Regions from separate parts of the Homo sapiens genome. Here region 2 is linked to region 1. Evidence: fine-mapped expression QTL. Tissue or cell type: whole blood. Region 1 holds a variant in brackets; the other region holds the start of a gene. All regions are shown on one strand. Distances are between the middles of the regions. Region 1 holds the start of LOC105375457 (a long non-coding RNA gene). Region 2 holds the start of LSMEM1 (leucine rich single-pass membrane protein 1).

What was found. PIP is the estimated chance that this variant, and not a neighbour inherited with it, causes the effect.
Region 2: it holds the start of LSMEM1, and the variant in region 1 is fine-mapped to the expression of LSMEM1 in whole blood (TOPMed, PIP above 0.99).

The regions. Positions count from the first base shown.
Region 1 is chr7:112,439,837-112,449,744 of GRCh38, reverse strand. LOC105375457 (a long non-coding RNA gene) reads left to right here and starts at 6,395. Exons shown (of 3, transcript XR_001745325.2): 1 at 6,395-7,440; 2 at 8,032-8,227. It also overlaps a transcript of IFRD1 not described here. RefSeq lists an enhancer at 1-195. The variant G/A (reference allele first, on the strand shown) is at 4,351.
Region 2 is chr7:112,475,279-112,485,204 of GRCh38, reverse strand. It overlaps LSMEM1 (leucine rich single-pass membrane protein 1), which reads right to left and starts at 4,214. Exons shown (of 4, transcript NM_182597.3): 1 at 3,859-4,214; 2 at 262-393. The coding sequence starts at 388. It overlaps IFRD1 (interferon related developmental regulator 1), which reads right to left. Exons shown (of 12, transcript NM_001550.4): 12 at 8,002-9,775. The coding sequence ends at 9,686.

The DNA of each region.
Region 1 (9,908 bases):
CGTTGTGGGTTTCTATACAAGAATGTGTCCCTTGACAATACTACCTGCCAGTTCTGAGAATTTCACAGCTGGTAAAACAAACACAAGTTATACAGATCAATAATCGCAGTGCTGCCTTTTTTCTCAAGGCACTCCTAGATCTCTGTCTTCCTTGTTAGGACATTTGTCTAGTATTTAGAGCCTGTTATTAGGTTCATATACTATGCTTATGACAGATCAAAGTCCCTGACTCACCTCAATGTAGGTGAGTCATCCGCCACTCCACCTCTCAGCTGAGCTCTATTCTATTTTCAATTGCCTGTAGCAAATTTCCACCAGAATGTTCCACTTGTGCCTCAACCCAACATCTCTGAAACGAATACTATATTTCCTTCTTCCTGTCTTCCCTTTGTTCACTGTACTATTTATTATCCTCCCATATGTTAAATTCCAAAACTCAAATTCATAGTCTTTTTTCCCTTTGATGCACCACCCCCTCCCCACCCGCAAAGCAATTAGTTTTAAAATAGCACTCTTAAATTCCTGTCCTATTCTGTGATCACATGTGACCTCAGTTCATGCCTGGGCATTTTAAGCGATCTCCCAGTCTTTTCATCCATGTTTCATGCACAGTAATGCTGCCAGATTTATTTGTGTGTTCCCTATTTTACTAATCCACCTGCTTTAATAGTTGCTCAAAAACATTCCATGGCTCCCATGACTAACTTTAAATGCCAACCCTTTTAGCCTGGCCCTGACTCCCTTTCCAGCCTCATCTTTCACTGCTTCCTCATACAGTTCTTGTTCTTCAGCCAAACAGGACTGCTTTTCATTTCCAATACACGGCTCTCTTCTCCTACCTCCATTTCCTCATTCATATTCTTTCCTGTTCTTGTAATGCCTTTCCTCCCATCTTCACCTTAAGAAATTTTATCCACCGTTCAAGATGTAGCTCATGCTGCCACCTTCCTGAAGCCTCCAGCCAGAAGTTTCTTCCTCCTCACAACTCTTTGACACTCATCCTAATAATGCCCTAATGGCACTTATTACCTCCCCACACGGCCTACTCAAAGATGCTATTTAATGGGCAACATTTCAGGGTTGCTTTTACTTTGTTTAATCCTGAAGCAGCCAGTAAACTGCACAGAGCACAGAAACCAAATACGGAGGCAGGTTGTGGGGGAGGAAGCAGCTCACACTGACTCCTTGTATCTAGAGGCACACTGCAACTCAGTGACAGGGCCTATACAGAATGAGATGTCTCACAGAATTGTAGACTCAATAACTTTTATAACCCTAGGCTCTTCACCATCCAGAAACAATTTATACTATACATAAGGCAACAGTTTTGCCACTCTGGAGTCACATCACCTAGGCCTAACATCCAGGTTCCAGCCCTGGAAACGTGTGCTTTGCATTTGGGGCAGGGGCTTTTTTTCCAAATCCCTTCACATCCACTTAGTCGTTCTGCGGCAGGCCTGGCCATGGCCCACCACATCATATACGTACTTGTTTTACATTTATTTGTGAATACATCTGTCATCTCATGAAATTATCAGCTTCCCAAGAACAAAAATCTTTTCCTCTTTTTAATTTCTTTTCTTTTTTTCTTACTTTTCTTTCTTTTTTTTTTTTTTTTAAATCTACAGGCCCAGGAACTTGAAAAAATCTTGCTGTATCCCTCATGGCACAAAAGGAAGTGTTACATTTGAAATTGAAATTATAGTCAGTATATATATAGTTAAATGAACATTTAAGAAATAATTGTTGACTAGATTTTTCTGGATCAAGGAAAGGGAGAAACTTATGTATCACTACATACATACATTCTGGATCAAGGAAAGGGAGAAACTACTTATCACTACAAACATGAAGTACAGCCTTCAGTATAATGAATTCTGAGAGATACTGTACTTTTGATAAAATTACCTTACTATAGTTTTATGCCTGCAGTTTAGCTCCAGACCAGTGCAAACATCACAAAGATGTAGCCCACCTCCTCATGGGACAGTGGTCTTCAGCTCCACATACTATTTTGCAATATGTTTAAAGAAATTAGAAGACTCCAAACATCAAGTCACTAAATGATTACAAATACCAGAAAGGAAGGGGAAGCACGAAAGGGAACAGGAAAAAGGGCTTTCTCCAGACTTTGCCTTTTTCTTCAGGAAAGACCACACTCCCTAGAAACTTCCACCTACATGTTGACCAGAACTGTGTCACAGGATGATCCCTAGCTGCAAGGAAGTTTAGAACACAAGTATTTTCGGTTGGGCTCATTCGCAAACAAAATTGAGGTTCTGTTGTTAAGAATGAAGGGGAAACCATGGATATAAGGTAGACAAATAGCAATGTCTGCCTCATATATCAGGAGGCAAAATACTCTCATGCTCTAATAAATAAATATCACATATTTGTTACCAACATGACATTATGTGCTGCCTCAACATTTAAGTCATTGTAAAATATATTCTTCTTTTACAAAACAACTTAGTTTAACATTCCATGGAACAGAAATCACCATCAGGGTAAGTATACTCAAATGTTGCAAAAATAAATCTTACATTAATCAGAATTTAGGGGCACGCCTGAGAAGAGTTCTAAGTTCTCATTGATGACTTTGATTCAAGAACAAGTAATAAAGATAAGATTCAGTATTCATACCTTCCTTGAAGGCATAAACATGAAAGGTTTTCTTTGAATGACTTTAGTCATGGCCTCCTTGGGATTCTCTGCATAGCACTGAGCAGAAATAATACCTCCCAGATCCTCCATGTAGGGCTTGTCGGAATCTGTTTCTTGCCTGTATCTCCCAAATCACTTCTCTCATCACCTAACACAGTCCCTTTCCTAATGCCATATCAAACTCTTAGCAGGTCTCTGAGCTCACCACTCTCAAGCTTCCAGGCCTTACCTAGGTTTGGCACATACCTCTCTCTCCATATTGCATCTCCTGCCCCTCTTTTCATCCACTGCATTTCAGCCACACTGGTCTTTGCCAACTTAAAAACACAAAGTTCATTCCCCACTTAAGACTTGCAACAGCTCCTCCCTCTGCCTGATATGATCAACCCGAGCTTCCCACACTTGCCATTCAGATCTGAGCTTAAATGACACCTACCTGAAGAGGCCTTCCTACTCTCCCACTCTTCCACTCTCCATTCTAAGGTCGCATCCTCACCCCACCTACCACCAGCACCTCCACCCTGCTTATATTCTCCCAAAGTACATCGCACTACTTAATATTTTTTGGCCCAATTATTTTTTGTCTCTTCTACTAGAATGTTAGAATTACAAGAAAGAGATCCTGTCTGTTTTATTCACTATTGTATCTTCAGTACTGGAACAGTACGTGGCACTTAGATATTCAATTATTTTTTACTGAATGTTTACACCACTCCTGAGAAGAATAAGCGTAAGCGAAAGAAGGTGAAGCTGGCTGTCCTGAAATACTGTAAGGTGGATGAGAATGGCAAAATAAGTCGCCTTCATCTAGAGTGCTCTTCAGATGAATGTGGTACTGGAGCGTTTATGGCCAGCCACTTTGACAGACATTATTGTGACAAATGTCTCATTGCTTCAGCAAACCAGAAGACAATTAATTGTGTATGAGTTAATAAAAGACATGAACTAACAAAACACATTTACTGAATGAATAAATGTATTAATAATTAAATGTCACTCCTCTGCCTAGAACATCCTTCCCCACGATCTCCCCATCATCCTTTAAGTTACTGATCCTCGGTCACTAATCCTGGGCCCCCCAAATTGTCTGATTTAAATGTCTTTCTTTTTTGTTCTTGCAGTGCCTTCTTTAGACTAGCATTAATTATATGTATTGTAGGGTTTTTTTACTTCTTTTTTTTTAATATGTATTGTAGTTCTTGATTACTTGTCTGTTTTCCCCTCAGACATGAGATACAAGCTACATGCTACTTGTGGGCAAAGCCCAGTTTTGTCACTTCTGAAACACACATGTAGCACCTTTGTGCAAATTAGAAACAGAACACCAAGTCTGATGAGTGTTTATGGGCTGGAATCCAGTCACCAATCTCTCTTCAGCAGGGAACAACCTATACATCTGTACATAGTGGCCCAGTAGACAATAACTGTGTTTTTAATTGAATGAGGGAGTCAATTTCCTCTGTATTTTAGCAGTTTTCTTAAAAGCAAAGGAACTAATGTGGGGAAAAGGATGAGGCTAACATTTATTGCAAGTCCACACTGCCACTGTTCTAGACTGTTTTCACACCTCTCATGTAATTCTTACAACAACCCTACGCAGAAAAGATTAGTTTTACCATTTTGTGGATGAAGAAATGAGCTTAGAGAGGTTTTGCAACTTCCCCAAGGTCGTACCATTGGTAAACA[G/A]TGCGTCTGTTGTGATGAAAGCCTAGGCCGGCCGGGCGGGGTAACTCACACCTGTAATCCTAGCACTCTGGGAGGCCAAGGTGGGCGGATCACAAGGTCAGGAGATCGAGACCATCCTGGCTAACACGGTGAAACCCCGTCTCTACTAAAAATATAAAAAATTAGCCGGGCGTGGTGGCGGGCGCCTGTAGTCCCAGCTACTCGGGAGGCTGAGGCAGGAGAATGGCATGAACTCGGGAAGCGGAGCTTGCAGTGAGCCGAGATTGCGCCACTGCACTCCAGCCTGGGTGACAGAGCGAGACCCTGTTTCAAAAAAAAAAAAAAAAAAAAAAGAAAGCCTAGGCCTATCTGATTCCAAGTTTGCCTCTGGCTGGCTTTGGTCATATGGGAACCTGAGTGCTTGTTCCTAGGAGTCATGGGTTTTCTTGTTTGCTTTTTTATAATTTCAACTTTTAGATTCAGGGTATAATGTACAGGTTTGTTACATGGTTATATTGCATGATGCTGAGGTTTGGGATATGAATGATCCCGTCACCTAGGTAGTGAGCATAGCACCCAGTAGTTTTTCAACTCTTTCCCCCTCCATCCCTCCCGCCTCTAGTAGTCCCCAGTGTCACTGTTGCTTTTTTATGTCCAGAGTCATGGGTTTTATTTGCAATGCTGCGAGAAAAGGCCCCTTGAAGTTAAATTTTGCCTTGTTCCCCTTTTTTTTAGAGTCTCTTCACCCCTAGTATCAGTATACAGGGGACATTCAGTTGTTGACTGCCTGATGAATGTTTGCCAGTGTAAGTTTTTTCTGATATTTCTAAAGCTTTAGCAGAACTTTATTATTAAATAGTAATGTTATTCCATCAAATAATTTTTTACATGGATTATCACTTGTTGTGTTTTAGATTGCATTGTTTTCTTAATATGTTTGCAATTTTTGTTTTATTGCCAAGAATGGTGATAATACAGCATGCTAAATTTGAGATCCCTGTTTGTTAAGAAATGATTCGGCGGGCAAATTTAGTTAGAACTCTTTAAGCCTTAAGATATATTTTGTTTGCTTTTTTCTTTTTGTTGTGTAGAAGATACTTCTTTGTGGTTTTCAGTTTTGAAATTACATACACTTTCTGTAATGAAATTTCTGACAAAAGACAGTCAGTGTTTAATTGTCTTCTAAAATGGGAATGTTGCTTATCTCACAAAGCTGCAGTATTATCAATAATAAAATATGAGACTGTGTTAACAGGGTACTGTGAGCCATAAGTACCATAATACACACAGCCAAACTAGGATAGTTATGACGCATTATGTTGGAAGAACTTTTTATGGCAACAGCGTAAGTAGGAATTATCTTTTTGTTGAACATAAAGAATATCAGTGGACTTTTCCATTTGGATATCCTGACTCTTCATACCAAACATAACCAAAATCAACTTGTTCTTTACCAACCTCTCTACATTCTACAACTAGTTTTGTTTTTTTGTTTTTGTTTTTGTTTTTTTGGTGGGGGATGGTGTTTGTTTTTTGGGTTTTTTTTTTTTTTTGAAACAGAGTTTCACTCTTGTCACCCAGGCTAGAGTGCCATGGTGCGATCTCGGTTCACTGCAACCTCCACCTCCCGGGTTCAAGCAATTCTCCTGCCAAAGCCTCCCGAGGGATTACAGGCGTTCACCACCATGCCTGGCTAATTTATGTATTTTTAGTAAAGACGGGGTTCATCATGTTGGCCAGGCTGGTCTCGAACTCCTGACAAGTGGTCCACACACCTCGACCTCCCAAAGTGCTGGGATTACAGGCATGAGCCACCACACTCGGCCGTTTTTGGGGGGCTTTTTTTGAGATGGGTCTCCCTCTGTCATCCAGGCTGGAGTACAGTGGTGCCATCACAGCTCACTGCAGCCTTGACCTCCTGGGCTCAAGCAATCCTCCCGTCTCAGCCTCCTGAGTAGCTGGGATACAGACGCATGTATCCCAGCTAATTTACTTATTTATGTTTGTAGAAATGAGGTCTTGCTGTGTTGCCTAGGCTGGTCTCAAACTCCTGGGCTCAAGCAGTCCTCCCAAAGTGCTGGGATTACAGGCATGAACCACCACACCCAGTCTACAACCAGTTCTTGTTCCCAGCTTTCTCCGTGTGGTAGTACTAATCTTACGGCCAACCACCAGAGAATCTTAAATAGTTGAAAATTTCTTAAGGGGTAACCTACTTCAGACTCCTGCCTCACCTGGGAAACGACTGACAACATGATTAAGATCCAAGGCTCTAACTCAGTATTCCAGGGTTCAAATCCTGGCCATACTATTTGCAATGGATTCTTGAGCAAGTAACTTCACTCTTCCATGCCTTGGTTTCAATGTGATTAATGATAGAACCTATTTCATGTGGTTGGAATGAGGAATACATGAAACAATACAAGTAAAGTACTTAGCTCAGTACTCAGCACATAGTAAACAATGTTAGCCATTAATATTAGTCAACAGATATTTATCATTTTTTCTTAAACTCTGACAGTGCTAGAACTCACACAACTCTTCAGGGAAGCTCATTCCAACAGTGGATATTTGTCATATTTTGAAAAGTCTCAATTCCTTCAACAAATATTCCTCAGGTGTCCACTATATACCAAGCATGTTCTAGAGCATGAGAACAAAGAGATGACTGAAAACAGTGTTTGTCCTCATAAAGTCCCTAGTCCAGCAACAGAACTCAGTACCAGGTGGCCCGTGGCTGTCCGTCCCTCTCAGCCCATTTGGAGGTGACTCTTGCTTCTCTCTTGATGGATCAGCTTTCACTGCCCACCCCCAGGGACATGACCAAAGAGGTTCCTCCTCTCTACCCCTAAGCGGTGAGTCCATAGGCTCCCTGGAGAGTTCAGTCATCTCTTCTGGAGCAAGTCACCTAGCAGCAGTGAACCTCCATTTCTTTATCTCAAAAATGGGAGTCAATAATCCCTGCCTTATTGATGTCACTGGATTGTCATAAAAATGACATCATTATGTAAAGGTCTTTGTAACCTGCCACGTACTCTATAATGATGAGATACTCCTTATATTAAACCAAAGAAAGAAATGACTCTGCTAAAGATGGAATTTTAGACATCAGTAAGCAAGGGAAGATCTTTTGGCTGGGAGCTGATAAAGTGGTTAACAGGAGAAATTTACTAAGCCCCAGATCAGACTTATAAGGACAAGACTAGACTGACTCAACCAGGCCTCCAGCATTGCTCCTAAAAATCTTATTGGAGGCCATATACTGTGCTGGAGGGTCACCGAGTTTTAGATCCAGACAGACAGAACTAGAGTCAAAATGCCTTATCAACCACTTACTAGTTTGGTGACTGTGTGCAAGTTCCTTAATCTAAGCTATATGAATGAGGAATGTATGAAACAGTACATGTTAGCCATTAATATTAGTAAGCAGATATTTATCCATTTTTTTCTTAAATTCTGCGAGTGCTAGGAATCACACAACTCTTCAGGGCCGCTAGTTTCAACACTGGATAGTCATCATTTTTGGAAAAGTCTCAGTTCCTTCAACAAACATTCCTCAGGTGTCCACTATATACTAAGCATGTTCTAGAGCATGAGACAAAGGGATGCCTGAAAATAGAGTATTTGGCCTCATAAAGTTCCTAGTCTAGCACGAGAGCTCAGCATTATTTGTAAATCAGATTCTCTCTCCTTGGAATTCAGAATTAGAACTGAGAGACACTCAAAGATTCTGGACTGTCTTCTGAGCAGAGAATAAAAAGTAGCTATCATCTGCCCACCACAGACATGAAAAAACAAGAAAGACAGTTTGCAGAGAGGAGAGAATGAAACAGGACTGTAGAGAGAAGCAGAGACAAGAAATGGATCTTCCCATCTCGTCATGAGCTTCCACTTCCAGGTAGGCAGAACTACCAGAGACTCAATTGAATTCCTGCCTTAGGCTTCCAGGGAACATCCTGAACTTTTTTTTTTTTTCTGAGATGGTGTCTTGCCTCTCACCCAGACTGGAGTGTAGTGGTGCGATCACAGCTCACTGAGGTCAGGTAACCCTCCCACCACAGCCTCCAAAGCCGCTGGGACTACAGGTGTGCACCACCATGCTCGGCTAATTTTTGTTTTTGTTTTTGTTTTTGTTTTTTTTAAGACAGGATCTCACTCTATTGCCCAGGCTGGAGTGCAGTGGCGTGGTGTTGGCTCACTGCAACCTCCGTCTCCCAGGTTCAAGCAGTTCTTCTGCCTCAGCCTCCCAAGTAGCTGGGATTACAGGCGCACACCACGAACGCCCAGCTAATTTTTGTGTTTTTCGTAAAGACAGGGTTTCACCATGTTGGCCAGGACGGTCTCAAATCTCTTGACCTCATGATCCACCCTCCTCAGCCTCCCACCAAAGTGTTGGGATTACAGGTGTGAGCCACCCTGCCTAGCCTAATTTTTGTATTTTTTGTAGAGACGGGGTTTTGCCATGTTTCCAAGGCTGGTCTGGAACTCCTGGACTCACACAGTCCGCCCACCTTGGCGTCCCAAAGTACTGGGATTACAGGGGTGAGCCATTGCACCCAGCCTGAACTTTTAAAATAAATTGTTTCTTATGCTCAAGTTAGGTCCAGTCAGTTTTTATTTCTTGCAAACTAGGATAGTTTACAGTTTCTCCTTAGCACTCCTCTGTTTTTTTGATTAGTGTCTCTTGGAGTTCCAGAAAACTGTCCAGGCATTTGCAAGTGGGACTTTAAAAGCCTATCTTTTACACTCAGATGAAAGGCAGTAGGAAGTAGGAACAGATTCTCTAACACTTTGGAGGCATGTTAGCACCTTTCTAAATTATGGAGAATGAGTGAACTGCCAAATTTCATTCATCATTACTGATATTTATTGTGAACCAATCCAGCCAAAAGAATTCTGAACAGACACTTTAAAAACCTATGCCAAACTGAATTGACCGTACCAGGCTTATCACATTTAAATATTTATTTAAAATAGTCTTTAAATTATAATTATGTTAATTGTTTTATTAAAATCAAGAGAGAAAACTAACCATTTATCAAACTGCTGAGACTGCTAAAAGATTTATCAGCCTTATATAAATAAGACACACTTAGTAAATATTTTCATTCCATTCAAGAAAGGCTTTTGTGACCGAGTGCCGTGGCTCACACCTGTAATCCCAGCATTTTGGGAGGCCAAGGCAGACAGATCACTTGAGGTCAGGAGTTCGAGACTAGCCTAGCCAACATTGGGAAACCCCATCTCTACTAAAAATACAAAATTAGCTTGGCATGGTGGCGAACGCCTGTAGTCCCAGCTACTCTGGAGGCTGAGGCAGGAGAATTTCTTGAACCCAGGAGGCAGAGGTTGCAGTGAGCCGAGATTGCACCACTGCACTCCAGCCTAGGTGACAGAGCAAGACTGCATCTCAAAAAAAAAAAAATGGCTTTTGAAATTAATTTGTTGCAGACATCATTGATTTCCTGCCGCAGATCCATCTTACTCTCTTGCTTATTCTCAGAACCCCAATTTTGTTCAGATATCCAACCTCCTTCGAGGGGCCATGTGCTTCAGGGGAAGGCTGGACCCCAGCTCCA
Region 2 (9,926 bases), 35 kb before region 1:
CAGGGACAGAAACGCCACAGGATCTCAGAATATTTGAAGTCAAGAGTTCAAATCTCGTGTAGGATCCAAGAAAGCCCATAATCCTGTCAAGTATTCAGAAAACAAAAGCAAAATTGCCCAACAACAAATAACATTTCCAGTGCCAACCTCTTCCTAATGCCCCCTCCCCCTCCACCACACCCACACATCCAGTCAGCAGTGGCTATTTTTAGGTAGCCTAGAAGCTAGGAAGGGCTGCTGTGCCTTCCCCAGCACACATACGGAACAGATGCTGCGATCCGGCTGGACAGAGGTTTAGTTTGTTTAAGTCATTTATGGAATCCACCACATAAAGCTTTCCATCTTCCTGAATGCCACAAGAACCAGTGTCCTGGGAAGAATGAGTCATTGTCCCTGGAAGAAAACACTGATGTTAAAAACAAGAGGTTGGGCTTGTGAACTCAACTTCACAAGAACCACAGCCACCAGGAAGCCAGACAGGCCTATGAAGAACCACCCACAAATAGTATTTTCAACTAAGGCTCTAGAGAACTTGGCTTATCCAGAAAAAAATATTTCCTTCTGTGGACCACTTTGTAATCGTTCTTTTTGCTTTGCTTGCCAGGAAGCTCACAGTCAAATGTGTGGCCCAATTTTAAGAATTGTACATCCATGTATACCCTGCTTATCTGCAAACACTCTTTTCTCCTCCTCAGATGTCTCAGTTCTGCCTATATTTTCCCTGGATCTGTTTTTATTTTGTAACTAATTTTAAAATTTTTCTTTTATTACATTGTTCACATTCTGGTGAGATGCCTCAAATCCTTTGTGCAAGAAGACTAGGTAGACAAAATTAAGCTAGTCAGCAGTGGCCACAAAACATTCTGAAAAAAGAGAATATTACCATGAACCATTCTAATTGCAGGAGGCTTTAATAGAAAATTGCAATTTTTATAGCCTCCCTCCATATGGCATGTAAGTCCTTCTCTTCACACAATTCCTTTAGCCATAAGATGCTGACTGTGAGTCCCCAAGACAACAATCTTAGCAAACTTAGCTGCTATAGAGAGGAATGCTGCTAGACTTCAGGACCTCTGAGATCTCTTCCACCTGGGTTTCCCTTAGACTGAGGTCACTTATGTAATAGCTTGAGGTTTATTAAATATTGAAAGTAATATTCTCTAACGACAGCACAACTGCAAGCAACACTGAAAATCCTGAAGAGTTTAAAAGGTTTATGTGGAGATGTATCTCTAGCACAACAGAGAACTTGTGGCCATTTAATTATGTGAAAAGAAGCCTCTAGAAAGACAAATTTCAATTACTATAAAAGCTTTTCCTTTCATGGTTATCAAGTCTAATCGTGATAGAGGATGTTTGGATCTAGAAAGGGTGTTAGATGTGCTTTAGTTCCCATCCTTTCCGCAAATGAGGAAATGGAAGCTCGGCGAGGTAAATGCCCAGGATCACACATTTGCCTGGCAGCAGAGCTGGAATCGGGCCTTTTGTTCAGCATTCAATGAGTCTTGCTTTGTGCTACTTTTCTTTTCTATATCCCTTCCTAATCCTGCCTCAAGACTCAGCTCAAACATCACTTCCCCTAGGAAGAGAGAACCAACCTGTCTTTCCTTTTGCCTTTGCTGGATTCTTTACATTCTTCTATCAGAACATCTGTAGTATTTTATTGCATCTATTTGCTTACATCTTTGATTTCCCGATAGACTGAAAACTCCTTAGAGTAGGGACGAATCCTATTCTTCAAATGCCCAGTGCCAGGTTTAGAAGTTGGTGACTTATGTTAAGATGGAACACCTGAAATGTTTATTTAGGATTTAAATCTCACCATTTTCAAAAGAATTGGAGGCAGTTAATAATAAGTACATGAACAGAAATAAGATTGAGGATAAAAATCCTCATGTGATGTCTATCTGGACTCTAGTAAAGTCAATGCGATAAATATGGTGCCTGTGTGTATTTGACAACACACTGTTTACTTTCTGTTGTTGCAAAAATTTCCTTTAAAACTCATCTACAGAATGAAGAGCAATATAGAGTTGGGAGAAACCAAATTCATAAAAAAAAAAAAAAAGTATACACCTAAAGAAGATGTGGGGAAAAAAAGTATCAGACACTTACTGAGCAATTTAAACTTAGTCTAAAATATTAAAAAAACAATTTCCCAGTAATACCTAAAACTACTGGTACTTGTGAAAAATGTGCTACCAGAACCCTAGCTAAGAAAGTGAGCTCAAAAAGTCATGGACTAAAAATTTTTTTTAGGGTTAAAACTAAAAAAGTGTGTTTCACTTATCTTGAAATTTTAATTAACAAGAACAAACAATTCCCTGAGTTTTCAGATAAGATACTACCATAGCACTTTATTGACATTACTGAATTCCAAATATACTTCATAGAGCATTCCTAAGGAAATGACTTGATATGACAATTAAAAAAAATTAAAAAGCAGCAGCAAATAGAGTAAAAGGGCCTTAGAGGTCAGTCAAATCTTATCCTTTTGCAGTTAAAACCAAGGCCCCAAAATATTCACTCATGCATAGTCACAGATTTTAAAACAATTCTTTTAGATGTGTTTCATATTTTATCATCCATTTATACTAATATTTGACCAAACAGTAATATGTGACCAGGAAAAAAAGTTTTATGTGTCACATCACAGGACCACTGTTCTGCACACAGCTTCTATTTTAGGTGTGGTAACTGAAGCATGGTTCATTTTTGGATCTCTGACTTAATAGCCTTGAGCCTTAGCTTCCCCTTCAGGAATGTATCTGCTGTTGCTTCAATTTCATACTGAGGCTTAATCAATGTTTACAAAATAGAGACCTAGCTAGAAAATCATGGCCACAAAAACTGACTTTAAGAGTACAGCTAATAAAATCTCCATATTACTGGTCTTGCTATCTACTCAAAAGGTGACTCCAAAAAAAACTAAGACAACAACCTAGTGAGCCATGACGTGCTTTGAAAGAAAATGTCTTCTTTAGAGTGAAGTCACAATGTAAATATATGCTATTCCAATATTTTTTTAATGAGCTGCAACACGCAAATGGAAAAATAAAGAACTAGCAGAGAAAACTGAGTTGGGTGCTGTTCCAGGGCTCCAAGAGCCTGCAAATGACTTGCAAATGACTCATGAGGCTGCTAGTAAAGGGATACAAGATCACATGGCCTTAAAACCAGGCCCCACGGCTGTTTGACACCCAGTAGTTGCTATCTTTGGCATCTCCAAATGAGGGCATCTAGGAACAACCAGCAAGGCTGGAGAAGCCAGTGTTACTAGCAATTCTTCATCACACTAACTTGACCCTCCTTTCAACTCCAGTGTGCAAATTTGCTTATTCACCAAGATTGGCTAAAGCAGCATCCCTTTAACAGAACCCTTTCTTATACCTTGACTGGAAACATGTAAGTAATTTCATTTTCCTCTGGTTTAGATCACTGCTAACAGTTGATTTTTTGTCATTTAAGAATTCTTTGACTATTTACAAATAAATATTCCAACAAATAAAGATAATTGTCTATGAAAAATTGCCTGGTGCTTTATTTTTTAACCAGGCAGGTGCTTGGTATCAAACCACAGAAATAACTCACACCAGTATTGCTTGCCACAAAATCAGAATTGTTATAATAGGGCATAATTCAAAGCTAATAAGCAGTGTTATTGAATGAGTCATGGTAATTTGTTCTTTAATTTCATTTCCCAGTCAATGCCTCTTCACATTCAGGAAGTAATTTTTAAAATCAAGTCTAAATCATTTCTATCAAAAATGAAAAACACAGAGCACATGCAACAAAAACTTCCCAGACTCGAGAATCATAATTCAGTCTCAGTAGAGTAATAGCATGCAAATTACTTACAAAAATGTGAGCTTTGACTGCTAGGTTACCAGAAAAACAAAACAAAACAAAACAAACAAACAAAAACTAATTGTTCAGAAGCAACTACAACAAAACTTTTCTACAAATTCTGTAGTTCTCTCTTTGCCTTTCTTCAGCATACGGGTGCTCCTATGAGACCCATAAGCCCCAGGATGAAACTGTTGGTCTATATTGTGTCAATTTAGCCAAGCAGTGTAAGATTCCAAATCCTGACTTTTTTCATAATGTCTAAGGTTTTTAGTAAATATATTACTAAAACTATGCTTTAAAAAGAAAACAACAAAAAAACACCATGCCCTGATTTAGTTGGTAACTGATGAGGTTTTTATTGGACTGAAGTTACCGTCCTTATCTGGCTGAAGCAACTGTTAGCTGACACCACCTTTCCAGCACTCCTGCCATGGTATGCTTCCATATATAAATATCCTGTAGCAGGCGGAAGCTGCCACTATGATGACTGACTTGCAAACACTCCAGACAAACCAGAGAACTGCAATAAACACGGACAGAATATGATTATGACATCATAACAAGGATGATGGCAGGTCAGACGCCTAGTGCTTCCAGTAGCTACAAAAAGCGATTGTGAGTGGGCGATTTCATGGATACAGACCCACCACAGGTGAAGGAAGCACTCCATCTCATCGGCCGCCTTTCCTTTACAAAGGCTTTGTTCTGTGAGTGTCTGCACATCCTCCTTTCTCAGGAATAACAGCCTTCCATATATGTGGTTCCCTCACATACATGCCAAGGAGCTTCTGCCCTCTGCTGTACATAAAAGATGCTACAGTGATGAGGAGACCAACTATCTCAGCAGGATACTAACAGTGAGGTTGTGAACAACTGTGCAATCCTTTATCATCCTCACTTCCATTGCCATAGCTTGATGGACATTATTCATCTTTGAAACATTTTTCATGTCAGTGAGAAAATAGGTGTTCCACAAAATTTTCTTTGAGACAGAGTCTTGCTGTGTTGCCCAGGCTGGAGCGCAGTGGCATGATCCCAGCCTACTGAGACCTTCCTGCTTCCAGATTCTCCTGCCTCAGCCTCCCAAGTAGCTGGGATTACAGGTATGTGCCACCATAGCTGGCTAATTTCTTTATTTTTAGTAGAGATGGGGTTTCACCATGTTGGTCAGGCTAGTCTTGAACTCCTGACCTCAAGTGATCCACCCACCTCGGCCTCCCAAAGTGCTGGGATTACAAACTTGAGCCACCATGCCCGGCCCAAAATTTTCTTTACACCTATATCCCATACGGACCTCACTCTGCTTTGGGGGAAGAGGAATGTCATTTTTTTTTTCCCTTCACACTACCTAGTCTAAGAGGGAATGTCATTTTTTCAAGCCTCATCTGTACCCAAAGACTAATTCTTGGAGGAAGACAATATAACTAGTAACTTTTCTCAGAAACATACGTTAAAAAGCTATGTCAAATTTCTCTGAATAATGAAAATGTTCATGTTAGCTATTATGCTGTTTTTAAGAAATCTCCCAACTACCTGATCTGCCTTGAGCCATGTATCCTTTGAAGATATAATAGAAGTAACTGCCTCATTTTGGGGCGTTTACTACTTTTCCTCTCCTGTAACTTCTAACTTTGTGGAATATTAACTTCCCCTGAAGGAGGAAGGAAATGGAGACTAAGGAATTTAATTGTTGAGGGATACACTGATTATAAGTGGCAGAGATGAGATGTAAACCCATACCTCGCATTCAAGTCTGAATTGAACTATACACCAGTGAGGGGGATAAGACTGCCTTTAGACCAGTTAGACTTCTGGAAAGCCACTTAAGAACAAAGCAAGACAACCTACTTCATTTTAACTATAACATACCTGCAAGACCACCTTTAAGAAGAGTTTTGGGGCCGAGTGCGGTGGCTCATGCCTGTATTCCCAGCACTTTGGGAGGCCGAGACAGGCAGATTAACTGAGGTCGGAAGTTCGAGACCAGCCTGACCAACAAGGAGAAACCCCATCTCTACTAAAAATACAAAATTAGCCGGGTGTGGTGGCACATGCATGTAATCCCAGCAACTCAGGAGGCTGAGGCAGATTATACCATTGGACTCCAGCCTGGGCAACAAAAACGAAACTTCATCTCAAAAGAAAAAAAAAGAGTTTTGGGTCACAAAAAGAGATATTCTCACATGAAGTGTCTAATCTAGGGACATTCTCAAGTATTTGCTTTTTCTTTCATATATTACATCTCAGGGTATCTAAATTCACTCCCAGGAAATTTAGTACCCATCAAAGAGGAGTCACAGACAATGAATACTTCAAAATGCTTGAGCCTCAAAATAATGAAAGCGGGCAAAATTAATCAAGAATCAAGCAATGAACAACTAGTCTATAACACAACATTTTTCTACTTTCAAGAAAACACAAGCATTCTTACACATTGAACACCCAGCCACCCTTGTCTAGCAGTTACCACAAGTTTCATGAATAAAGTCACCTGCATATAAATTCAACATGCAGATTAACACTCTATACCTTCTTCCTCCCAAAAGCCCAGTAAAAAAGCAGGAGTACAAATTACAAAACCAGAAAAATTAAAATAGGAAGAAACAATACTGAAGAGCTCAATAAATGTATTGAACATGGTAAGAAGAGTGGTATCTGCCTTAGCAGGGCTATCACAGATGAGTGACAGTAGGACTGATCCTGCAGAATTCAGGCAGGCCTAGGATTTAGAGGCAAGAGTGTGGCATGGAGCTACACAGAGGCAAGTAATTTAATGCTAGCCAAAAACAAAATGCAATACAAATTGGAAAATTGTCTTAGAGAAATATCCCAGACAGAAAAAAAAAAAATAAATAAGGCCCAAGATTCAATTTGGGAGCTCCACTATGTCATAGAGTTCCAGAACAAAGAAAATGAGGAGGAAGAGAAGAGATGAAGAACTTAATATTTTCCAGGTTGCCAATCCCACCAAAGCACAGTATCATGCAATTTTAGAACACTAGAAACAGAGATGCTGAGAAAACAAAGAAATAAAAATAAAAACTGCATCAGATATCTCAAGATTTTGCAAATTAGAATAGAGCAATGCCTTCAAAATTCTGAATTTGAATACACTTGTCAAAATTTTCAAAAATTCCAAATTTGATTTTCCACCTAGAATTTCCATGCAAACTATCTTTCAGAAATATGAAGTCACTAAATAACTGACTGATCTCTCACGCACTCATTCCCAAGAAACTACTGAAAGAAGTGCTCCATGTTAACAAAGAAGTAAATTAAGACATGGGATCCAGAAAATGAGGGATACAATTCAAGAGAAAGAAAAACAAATCCTCACGATAGTGCTGTCTCAGGAAAACTGCTATACAATTGGATGAGAGAAACTAGTCTAGATTGAAACAAGTACAGAATCAAGAAAAGTTGTGACAAATTTATTTGGGACTGTTTGGGAAGAATCAATGATGTGCATAAAAAGCCAAAAAAAAGAGCATTAACTCCAAGACAAAACGTTGTATGAGAATGAAAATGTAAGCACATTAAATTAATTCACGAGTGAACATACAAGTATGATCACAGCTATGCAAACAGGTACATGATCTAACCAAAATAATATTAGAAGGATGTGAAACAATAAAAGAAATTTTCACCTGTCTTAATAGTAAGTTGACAAACACCTAAAAAATAAATGGCTGTATAATCATATTATTTAGAAACCTAAAACCAAAAACTGAAGGCTGAAAGAACCGAGCTAGAAAAAACTGAAGGCTGAATGTCTCTTGGGATGGGACTGAGGAATAGGAAAGGATGGAGCAAGGGGCTTTCCTTATTAGCCTTGAAGTACCATTAAACTATGTTCAGGCTGGGCACGGTGGCTCATGCCTGTAATCCCAACACTTTGGGAGACCAAGGCGGGCAGATCACTTGAGGTCAGGAGTTCAAGACCAGCCTGGCCAACATGGTGAAACCCCATCACAACTAAAAATATAAATTAGCCAGGTGTGGTGGAACACACCTGTAATCCCAGCAACTCAGGAGGCTGAGGCAGGAGAATCGTTTGGACCCTGAAGGCAGAGGTTACAGTGAGCCAAGATTGCGCTACTGCACCCCAGCCTGCGCAACAGAGGGAGACTGTCTCAAAAACAAACAAAAACCTATGTTCATACAACACTTTAATAAAAATTCATTATTTATTTATAATTACATGTACATACATATATGCATTTGAATATCTAGAAGAAACTACCATTTGCAATCTCTTTTCCATGGTTCTAACCTACTTGGAACATAACCAAGTGACAACATACAAACAAGTTCTAGATTCTAAACCTGTTTTCCACTGCACTGTAACTGGGGGATGGGACTCAGCAACAGTGACTCCATAAGCCAGCAAATGATTTTCACCTAGAGGGAGCACCAGACTTCCAAGAGTTGTTGGGATGTGGGAGGGGAACACTAGTTTGGAAAAAAGACCTTAAATGATTTTGATACTTCTCCCTACAGTATATATGCTTCCCTACCCCTCACGGCGACCTACAGCAAGAGTATCAAAGAAACAAGTCTACGGATTTGAAATGGCATGTTGCTTGCACTATATATTTTAATCTAAAGTTTATTAAATGTTAACGTGTTGTCAAAATGCTTTTCATAAAATGAAAGAAATATACCTCATGGGCAAACAAGCAGCAATATTCTTTTTTGTTTTGCTTTTGAGACAAGGTCTCACTCGTCACCCAGGCTGGAGTGGCACAATCACGGCTCACTGCAGCTTTGACCTCCTGGGCTCAAGTTACCCTCTTGCCTCAGCACCCAAGTAGATAAAGAGTAGAAGCACACACCACCACACTCATTTTTTAAATTTCTGGTAGAGACAGGGTCTCGCTATGTTGCCCAGGCTGGTCTCAAACTGGGCTCATGCCATCCTCCCGCCTCAGCCTCCCCAGAGTGCTGATTATAGGCATGAGCCACACTGCATGTTGCCAAGCAGAAATATTCTTGAAAGTCAGAAACCTTAATCCCAATTATGTATTGCTACATTCTTTTCATCTACTTTAATGTTTGTAAATATACACATAAAGCTTTGTCTCCCTGCCCACCTGGCCTAGTCATTTTGGACTCTGTACCTCAAAGCCATAAATAATATTTCTTCTATTAGAAGAGAAGCACTTTCAGTGTGGAAAAAAATCTTTATTTCAAAGTAAAATGCACAAAGTCTCATACAGCAGATAAAATCAGTGTTACTGCTCTCAGATGTTAAGGTTAGCAACCTTTCTGGCATATGCTAATTCATCATGAACTCCCAATAGCTGAACTGAATGGCTTTTAAGTACAGCTATAAGGTCTCATGGTATAATTCCTTTTGTTGATGCCAGTGACAGGATTTTAAAAGCTACATTCCATTAAAAATTAAAAATACAGCAGCTTTTCCAGGGGAACTAGATCCCAAAATTGTACCCAGAACTCTTGTCTAAGATATTAAGTTAAATATCTTGCATGTATATATCATTATAGTAAATCAGTATTCTTGACAACCACAGTGTAAGAAATTAAACTTTGGCTAATTGTTTTCCCCATCATGAAATCAGTCTTTTGCTGTCTTCATAAATAAATTATGACCAAACATTACAAATACTTTATACATGTTTACTGATTTACAGAGAATATTTAATAATCAGAACTCACCAGTTTCAATAGTATTGTACATTAAATTATAAGCAATATAACCACTGCTACAAAAGTTATCTAAGTTAATCCAGGATAAAAACTGTGTCTAGAGTTTAAATACATTGAAATAGAAAAAAAAATAGAAATTAGAAAATAGTCTTCAAGTTCTGAAAATCTAGAAGAATTCTCCAACATCTGCTCTCTTATCTCGACATTTGCTTCTAGCTTTGGTTCGAGCTTTGAAGGCTGCAGAGTTATATAAATGCTAAAATGAAAAAAAGGAAAAACGTGCATCAGTAAGACTTAAGATATTCTTACAAAACAGAAAAAGGGTAAAAGTCACAAAGAAAAGAAATGAACTAATTTGACCCTATAAACATTTAAATGTTTATAAAACACACACAAAGAATGAAGGA